Linked DNA regions of Homo sapiens: region 2 is linked to region 1. The links come from fine-mapping of genetic effects on gene expression. Tissue or cell type: caudate. Region 1 holds a variant in brackets; the other region holds the start of a gene. All regions are shown on one strand. Distances are between the middles of the regions.

Region 1 (4,000 bases):
TTCTCAAACTCTTATCTGCTCCAATGTATTTAAGGGACACCACTTATTCCAACCAGTAATAATGACTTGTTACAGTAGGGACTGGAGAGGAAAGTAGAGATTCTCTGCAAATAGGGTTTTGCTATAACCTTATTTCCTTTAAGAATTATTGAGATAGTGCTTCAATTTTTACTTTTACTTAAGCTACAGTAAATCTTTTACTTGTATTCAATTATGTTGCATCATAAATAACCATCTCTGATCAGTTATCCTGTTGTAAAGAAATGAGGAGTTAATTCAAACCTTAAAGAATTTTCCCAAAGCCAAATAATCCAACCCATCAGAGCAGTTGAAAACAACACATTGTTTGGCTACAGCTTTTGCCAAATCCTTGGTAGTTTCAGTCTTCCCAGTGCCAGCTGGACCCTCAGGTGCTCCTCCAAGGTGCAAATGAAGGGCTCCAAATAAGGTTCTGAAACATATGAAATAGACATTCTTTGTAGAATAATGTGATTTTTTTTCCATTCACATGCCAAGAAGAGAAAAAGGTTAAATTGAGAACCAAACCTCCAGCTTCCTCTTTGATAATTTCTTCCTTCCCAGTAACCTCTGAAAATCTCTGATAGTTCATTACTTTGTCTGTTATTATATTTTATTTCTGAATAGCTATATATATGCCACATTGAGAACAAATTCACTTTTGAAATTTAATGTTGATTTCTGGCCAATATGAAGAATTCAGTTGACTTTGAATCCCCTAATTCGCCAACTGTAAGCATATGGAAATGTTACAGATAAGAAAACAAATAATAATTTAAAATACATGGCCATTTTTGAAAGAATGAAAAGAAAATTACCAACGAAGAGGGAATGCAAAGCCGGAGAATTAGACACTAAAAGATTGTTTCGGGATCAGTATATAAATAAATGAGTATATTTATGCTCAGATAGAAACAGAAAATAAACCCTCAGAAGTGAGCAATGTGGGGAGCTGGAATGGATCCACCTATATAAATCTAGAAGTCTTGAAAGGCTGTCTTGTCTCTAAATGGAAACTAAAATCACTCCAGCAACCTACTGGAGAGAGACAAAGAAGAGTCAATTATGGAAGAGACAAAGAAGCCTATCCTTCATGCGGGGCCTGATGAAAAGCTTGTATCATTTGTGCAGGGAAAAAGAGGTCCAAATTTCTACTAGTCATGGGCACATTAATCCAAAATGATAAATTAACATTTTGTTCTGAACCAGAAAAAAACTCTAGAGTCTTCCTCAGAGATAAATATGAAACTGCTCCTTATGGACACCTCCACGGGTGACAACATGCAAGACTGCATGGGGAAACAATCACTACTAAAACCAGCTCACAGTTCAAACAGGAGAGAGAGATCAGAGTTAGGAGTCAGCCTTGCTGTGGCAAAAGCAATGGACAAAGAGTGTTATTATATAAATGGCGTCCTACTCTCTATGGTATCCTGGCGGTCTGTTAAATGAGATTTTAAATATAAAGCAATAGACATCAAAAAATTGTGAGAGAAAAACAGAAGCCAATTTTATAAATGAGACAATTTGAAACTCTAGCAATAAAAATATAATTTAAAAACTCAGTGAACAAGTTAAATAGCAGAATAAACATAAGGAAACAGAAAATTATGCACTGAAAATTACTCAAAGAGATACAGAGACTGAATGTAAGAAAAGTTAAGAGACATAGAAGGAAGAAAATGGGGAAGAAGCAAAATTTAAACAGCAATGACTGATAATTTTTCAGAATTCAAGAAAAACATGAATGGAAAAAGGCCCAAATAGGATAAATAAAAACTAATCTACATCTAGTAACTTTA[C/T]AGTGAACATCAACAATAAAGAGAAATCTTAAAAACTATAACAGAGAAAAGAAAATTACCTACAAAAGAATAAGAATAACAGGGACTTACCAGCAGTAGCCATGGATGCCAGGAGAATAACGAGTTTTAAGGGCTGAGGGAAAACTACTGTTCATCTACACTTCTATACCTAGCTACTCTGTCATTTAATAACTGAGCAAAGACACACAAAGAAGCATTTTTAGACAAAGACTGATAGAGCTCATTACTTGCAGAGCCTCCCTGGAACAATTACTAGAAGACATTGCCTAGTAAGGGGAAGAAAATTAAACCAAAAGTAAGGCAAAGCAAGAAGCACTGGTGAGTAAAGAAAATGATAAAAATTTTTGGTAAACCTGTATATTAATAGTAAAAAATATGTAACACTCTATTTAATAGGGTTCTTTCTTGGAATTTTGACTAAAGCCCCAAGCTGAGAACAATAAATACCATCTCATCTTATCTTATAGATGGTGAAGTTGGTTTGGAACATTAGCTATCATCAGGGCATATAAAAGTTAGATAAGAAGACCGTAAGTGAGTGATCAGGAGTGAGGACTTCTTTGGAAAGAATCATTGGTGTGTTGTGTTTTTTACCTCTCTCTGTATGGTGGAAGAAAGAGCAGCACTTTTCCCTCTCCCAAGCTAACAGAGGGGCCTTTGAGACTGCTCAGAAAACTCGACACACCATCTGCCCCTTGGATTTTCTAGAGCACAGAAACTGAGTGCTGACTCACAACCGAAAACATTTCAAGCTGAAAAGATGCCTGGAACTTCTCCTGATGGCAGAATGGGAGAAAAGAAACAGAGAGATGTGTTCCCACTGCTGGCAAAACAAATGTATGTCTATCACCTGGCCAGGTCCAGATCCCGAGAGCCAGATTTGAGTCACACTGAATGGGACCCTATGCAGAAGGCCCATCTGAAACAGGAGAAAATCCCCAAAAGAGGGTCTGTGTGTGGTGAGCCTCAGAGGCTGAAGCAAAAGCCACCTGCGGCCAGCCCGAGAAGGCATTTTCCACAGGTGGGAGAATCCGGTCACTGGAAGGGCTTTAAGGAACCCGCATAAACATCCCTTGGAAGATCTGGCACATCTGGGCTTGTGCCATCACCAAGACATCACTATACAGCCAAGAGATAGTTGTCACACAAGACACTTGTCACATATAAACCTACTTCTTTCTGTTTTCTCCCCTTCAACCTCCAATACTGGGGGAAGCAAAAGATAAGCTATTGAGGGATGAAACCAAGGACAGGGATAAAAATAGCTAAAAATTGAGCACATCTATTTTCCAAATTCAGGCTCTCAGCCTGAGTCAGGCTTGAGTTGAGGGAGAAGGGAGCTTTAAATTGGATGGGAGCTATTATTAATTTTGATTAGCTGTAAGTGGACTTTTATTATTTTAAAAAATGACACTTATAATTAATATTTTAGAGTGACCAGAAAAGCTAGGGAATCTACCCTAGATTTCATTCAGGAATGAGAAATATTTATTTAATAGAGCAACTTTAAAAAAAACAGTAATAAGAAAGAATAAAATTGCTTTCTGCTTGCATCCTAAAACTGGTTTACTCAATAAACTACTTAAAATGACTAATTTTCTGGAAAGAAATTTAAAAACAAAGTTTAATTTAGTATTTGGAATATAAGAGATAGGAACCTGGAGTTAAAGTAGTTAAAGACATTTTATTATTCAGAAAGGGAATAGAGATATTTATTAACTTTAGGCTTTATTAAGCAAAATAGGCATTCTTTAAATGTAAGATAACCTTTAAGAGAATAGAAACAGCATCCTATATCATAGCCCATATCATATCCCACGTTATATCCGTATCAAATGAGATAAATGAATAAAGAAAACTCAATCACTTAATAAAAGATAGGACATGAGAAAAACAAAGCAAAACAAAATAAAATGTTAAACTTGGAGAATATAAAGCACAAAATAAGATGATTTAAAGAAGTCCAAATAGTTTATGAATCACATTAAATATAAATGTGTTATACTTGGTAGTCAGTCAAAGAATACAGAGCCAGCCCCTCTTCATTTTCATTTGGCTAAATCTCCTTATCCTTCAATATTAGATCTCCTAATATAAGATCTCCATCCACATGTTTTTGTTGCTGTTGTTGTTTGGTTTTTTGTTTTGAGACGGAGTCT
Region 2 (4,304 bases), 900 kb after region 1:
GTTTTCAAATAAATACTTTCAAAATATCTACTTTATGGCTGACTTGTATGTTTGGACAGATCCAGAATAAAGGGCCAACTTTTACCTGAGCTCAGAAGAAACTTTCAGCCTTTGAGATAATTGTGAAAGGAGTTTTTCTGCTCTTCATAATCTGCAGATGCAGAAGCAGTAAGTTCTGACTGGAAAGAGAGAGGTCTAGGATTTTCATTCGTGGGGAAAGGATTTGGAAATGTTCCAAGATCAAGACCTCTGCCCTTAAAATATGCCTGAAGCCTTCTGAAAAACTAAAGAGAGAAAGAAAATGGTCAATGCCAGATATAAATGAAACACCAAAAATAAAGGTGTTTTTCTTCCCTCTATTTTTCCCCTGAATTGACTTTAAGGCTAATCTAAGAGGCAGGAAATACAAAATCTAGAAATACAAGTACATGCTTCAGCTACTTCTCCTCCCCTCCTCTGTACCTTCTTTCTGACATTTCAACCCTAACCAAAATAATTCACCATTCTTACTGAAAATTGAAGGAAGACTATGGAGCGGCACCACAGTGGAAAGATTCATTGTGAACTATCTCTGAGTACTAAGGTCAAAGGTGAAAATGAACTCCATAATAAGCAGCTCAGTATCTCCTCTTCCTTAATATGAGATCTCTGTTGTTGCCTTCTGCAATAGTTTCTTTTCAGATTTCCATTAGGAAATGAACACAGAAGATGTGCGAAGTGCTACTTGCTTTGATGCAGGACAGGCAAATCCCAAAACTGGAGCTTAGCACAGGAGGGTTCTTGGCTTTGCCCAGAAAAGAATTTAAGGGCAGGCTGGTTGTGGTAACAATCTTTTATTGAAAGGTACTGCTCCTGCCAGAACAAGGCTAATTCATAGGTAGTGCACCTAGGGCTGACAACATATGGGCTCTTATCAACTGTGTTTTTATCCACTTTTGAATATATGCAAATTAAGGGATGGGTTAATGCAAACAGAAGGGAGTTATTTAGAGCTTTCTAGGAAAGAGGTGGTAACTTTTGGGTCATTGCCATGGAAAGGAGTGGTAGCTTCCAGGTAATTGCCATGACATTTGTAAACTGTCATGGCACTGAGGGGAGGATCATATCCTAAGAGCAATGAGAGCAGGTCGGGACCACTTTTGTTGCCATCTGCTGGTTTCACCCAGTGTTTTCACTTTATCCTGTCTGGACCAGATCCTGTTTTCGTCAGCAGCTGTGACCAGAAAACAAATCCTGCTGGTCTCTTATCTCAGTTTATTTTAATCCTATGTTGTTATATTTCCCATCATTCACTTTAGAAAAACCATATTTCAAAATAGTCATGTCAACATGTTTATTGTATTTGGCATTTTTTTTAAAGAGAATGTTTACTGATCTTTTGAATTCTATTTTATAGATAACTATATGTTGAAAATATGTCCAGTAAATTGATACCCATGCAGGGTCAACTTTCAATTTTTGCAGCTGAGCTTGGCAATCTCTAGTTATATGATAACTTGTTTTATCATCAGTTCAATCTAAGCTATGCACGAGCAATTCCCTGTTACACTCTTTATTTTTTATATGTATTAGAAATCAAGGCTACAAAGTCAATGTGTATATAAGATCAGTTACAAATGAATTGTACTATGTGTGTATAAGATTGTTTCTAAATATAAATTTGTTTCTCTTTACAGAAACAAATGTAAACTGGCCAGAGAAACAATAGGTTGCCAACCACTAGGGTAGTAAAACTCTGGTCCAATCCTGTTGGAGAATTTTCTCAACCCTTGGTAGCCCCCTTTCCACTACGTTCTGGAAAACAGAATGCTGTGTGCGTAAATCCAAAGAGGCATTAGTTCTATCCTGAAACCCAGGCCCCAAGTGTGTTCTTACCAGATCTCTGTTTCTGGGGTTGTTGAGTGGCTTCCATTTGTCCTCATTTCTTACTGTGGCTCCATTCACATGCCCAAGCAGCACCAGGGCAACACATAGTAGCAGGAGAGGTGCTCTGGTCATGGTGGAGTGAAGCTGAGTGAAAGAGGGGATGCGGGAGCTGTCAATGATCATTGAGAGAGATAGTCAGGGAAGAGAGAGAGAAAGAGGAAACATCTGTAAAGGCAGACAAGGAAGGAGAAATAGCATACTGGTTTATCTAAGTTTTACAGCCATCTTTTTTCCAGATTGACTTCTAAATGAGGACCCCAAAATGCAACTGATTAGCTTAAAGTAGCCCATGATAATGAGAATGTTATACAGTGATAAGCAAAACAATTATGGAACATAACATAGAAAGTCTGAATATGCCTTTTTCATCTTTGGAAAAAAAGTACTTTGTTGTCTCCAAAGAAACTGCAACTCTTAAAATAACAAAAAACAAAACCTTAAATTACTTTTAAGCCTTAAGACAGCAGTCTTTAAAAAAAAGAAAAGAAAAAGAAATTACTTCAGATACCGAGCTGAGAAATACACCTTATACACACATCTGAGACAGACAGACACATACCACAACAGTGTGAGTAGAGATTGTCTTCCACTCCAAGGTGTGAAAGAGAAACTGAGACACATTGTAGAAAAGGCTAATAAAGCTTACCAGGAGTTTGGTTTTGGTTGGTCCTCCTAGGTTATCCTGCCTATAATTGGCAAGGCAATTCATGGGTACTTATAACCAATGGATTGGGTGCCAGTGGAAGTCACTGACTTGAGCAGGGGAGTTAAAAAATAATGATTCCTTTTTCATCCAGAACACAAAGATTCTTGAGAGTCAGATCTTCAAGCTTCTTCAGGGATAAGCTTATTTGCCTTAGAAATGCGGCAGCCACTCCTTGAACCACGAACATTTTATGTGGATTTTATAAAACACACAAAGCACTTCCACACAGCAAAGTGATTTTCTCCTTTTTTACTTTTAAGGGAAGGGATACACCTGGAAATATGATGGATTATAGCTGGAAATATGATGATGATTATCCCACCTATTAGAACGTTCTTTTGGAGATATGACTTTTTCAAGTTAACAGCATTTTTTGAACAGAAAATTCTTTTGTGAGAGACAAAATTACTCTTTTTGACCTATACCTTGTACTTTTTTCTGAGAACCTCAAGAAGCTTTACAAGTTTTAAATAGTGGCATCATTTATCATAATATCTCTTCAAAATAGAGCAAGAAGATAACACATGTTTCATGGAAAAAAGATAAATTACTATACCTACAACATTCCCTTGCTGAATAAATGCCATCTGTAGAAAATGGTAGGCCGAGAAATTGGACTTGAGTTGTGACGTTGCTTTGGTTCCAATGATTTAGAACAAAATTTAGGACAAGATATTTATTCAGAAGGCTGGTGATCTCGACTGGAAATTAGCAAACCTGGCTATAGTCTCAGTCTTGCCATCTTGACCCTGGGCAAGTTACTATGACCTCTGCCCTTCAGTTGTTCATTTCCTCTGTTTATTCATTCAGCAGACTTTTACAAAGTGCCTACTATGTGCCAGGTACTGCAACAGGATTTGAGGATGAAATGGTAAGAATAATAAATACAGTCCTTGCCCTCATTAAAATAGAGTAGTGGGCAAGACAAACATTAATCAAATCGTACAACCAAATGTGTACATATAAGTGAACAATCATTTCTATGAAATAGCGAGTGCTATGAAAGTATAGAAAAAGGGAATTTGATTCAGTCTGAGAGCCAAGGAAGTCTTCTGTGAAGAAATGACCTTACATCCAGTCAACTGAATAGGAGTTACCCAGGCAACCTGAGGAAGACAGAGGGAGAAGTGTGTCTAAAAAGGTGAACAGCTGTGCTAGGAATGGGGCACTTTAAAGGTACTGAAATTATGCCAGGCGTAGAGGGAGCAGGTGGGATGCCTGACGCAAGATGGGGCCGGAGAGGTAGTCAGATTATGATCTTTAGGCTACAAGTAATGCTAACTGATTAAAGGGTTTTAGGCATCAAAGAAGCTTGATCATACTTGCATTTTTAAAAGGTTATTCTGGTTGCAGTGGGGAGGAGAGACTGAGCTAGAAAAGAGGGCTGCGCAAAGCCAGTTAGGTGGTTACACAGTAGTCCAGGCAGGAAAAGATGTTAACTTGGATTAGGGCGATGTTAGCACAGATGCACAGATTATGGGTAGATCTGAGAGAGATTTATAAGGGATTGTTAATGTACTGGGTACTACGGGGAGGGGGGCTAAGGAGATGGGAGTTTCAAAACCAATTGCTAGGTCCGTGGGTTATGCAGGTGAGTGGGTTACAGTGCCATTCACCAAGATATCAAACCGAGGCATGGAGGAGTGAAGATCATCATTCTGTTTGGAATGTG

Direction of the effects. Positions count from the first base shown, and alleles are read on the strand shown. Sizes are in standard deviations (SD) of each study's normalised expression.
With allele T in place of C in region 1, the expression in caudate of the gene that starts at base 2,017 in region 2 is lower (large effect, 0.92 SD a copy in GTEx).

What was found. PIP is the estimated chance that this variant, and not a neighbour inherited with it, causes the effect.
Region 2: it holds the start of C2orf66, and the variant in region 1 is the best candidate, but not a certain one, in a credible set for the expression of C2orf66 in caudate (GTEx, PIP 0.89).

The regions. Positions count from the first base shown.
Region 1 is chr2:195,909,745-195,913,744 of GRCh38, forward strand. It overlaps DNAH7 (dynein axonemal heavy chain 7), which reads right to left. Exons shown (of 65, transcript NM_018897.3): 25 at 283-451. Among named protein-coding and RNA genes, the nearest start is that of DNAH7, 160 kb to the right of the region's middle. The variant C/T (reference allele first, on the strand shown) is at 1,821.
Region 2 is chr2:196,807,339-196,811,642 of GRCh38, forward strand. It overlaps C2orf66 (chromosome 2 open reading frame 66), which reads right to left and starts at 2,017. Exons shown (of 3, transcript NM_213608.3): 1 at 1,876-2,017; 2 at 86-284. The coding sequence starts at 1,998. The coding sequence ends at 105.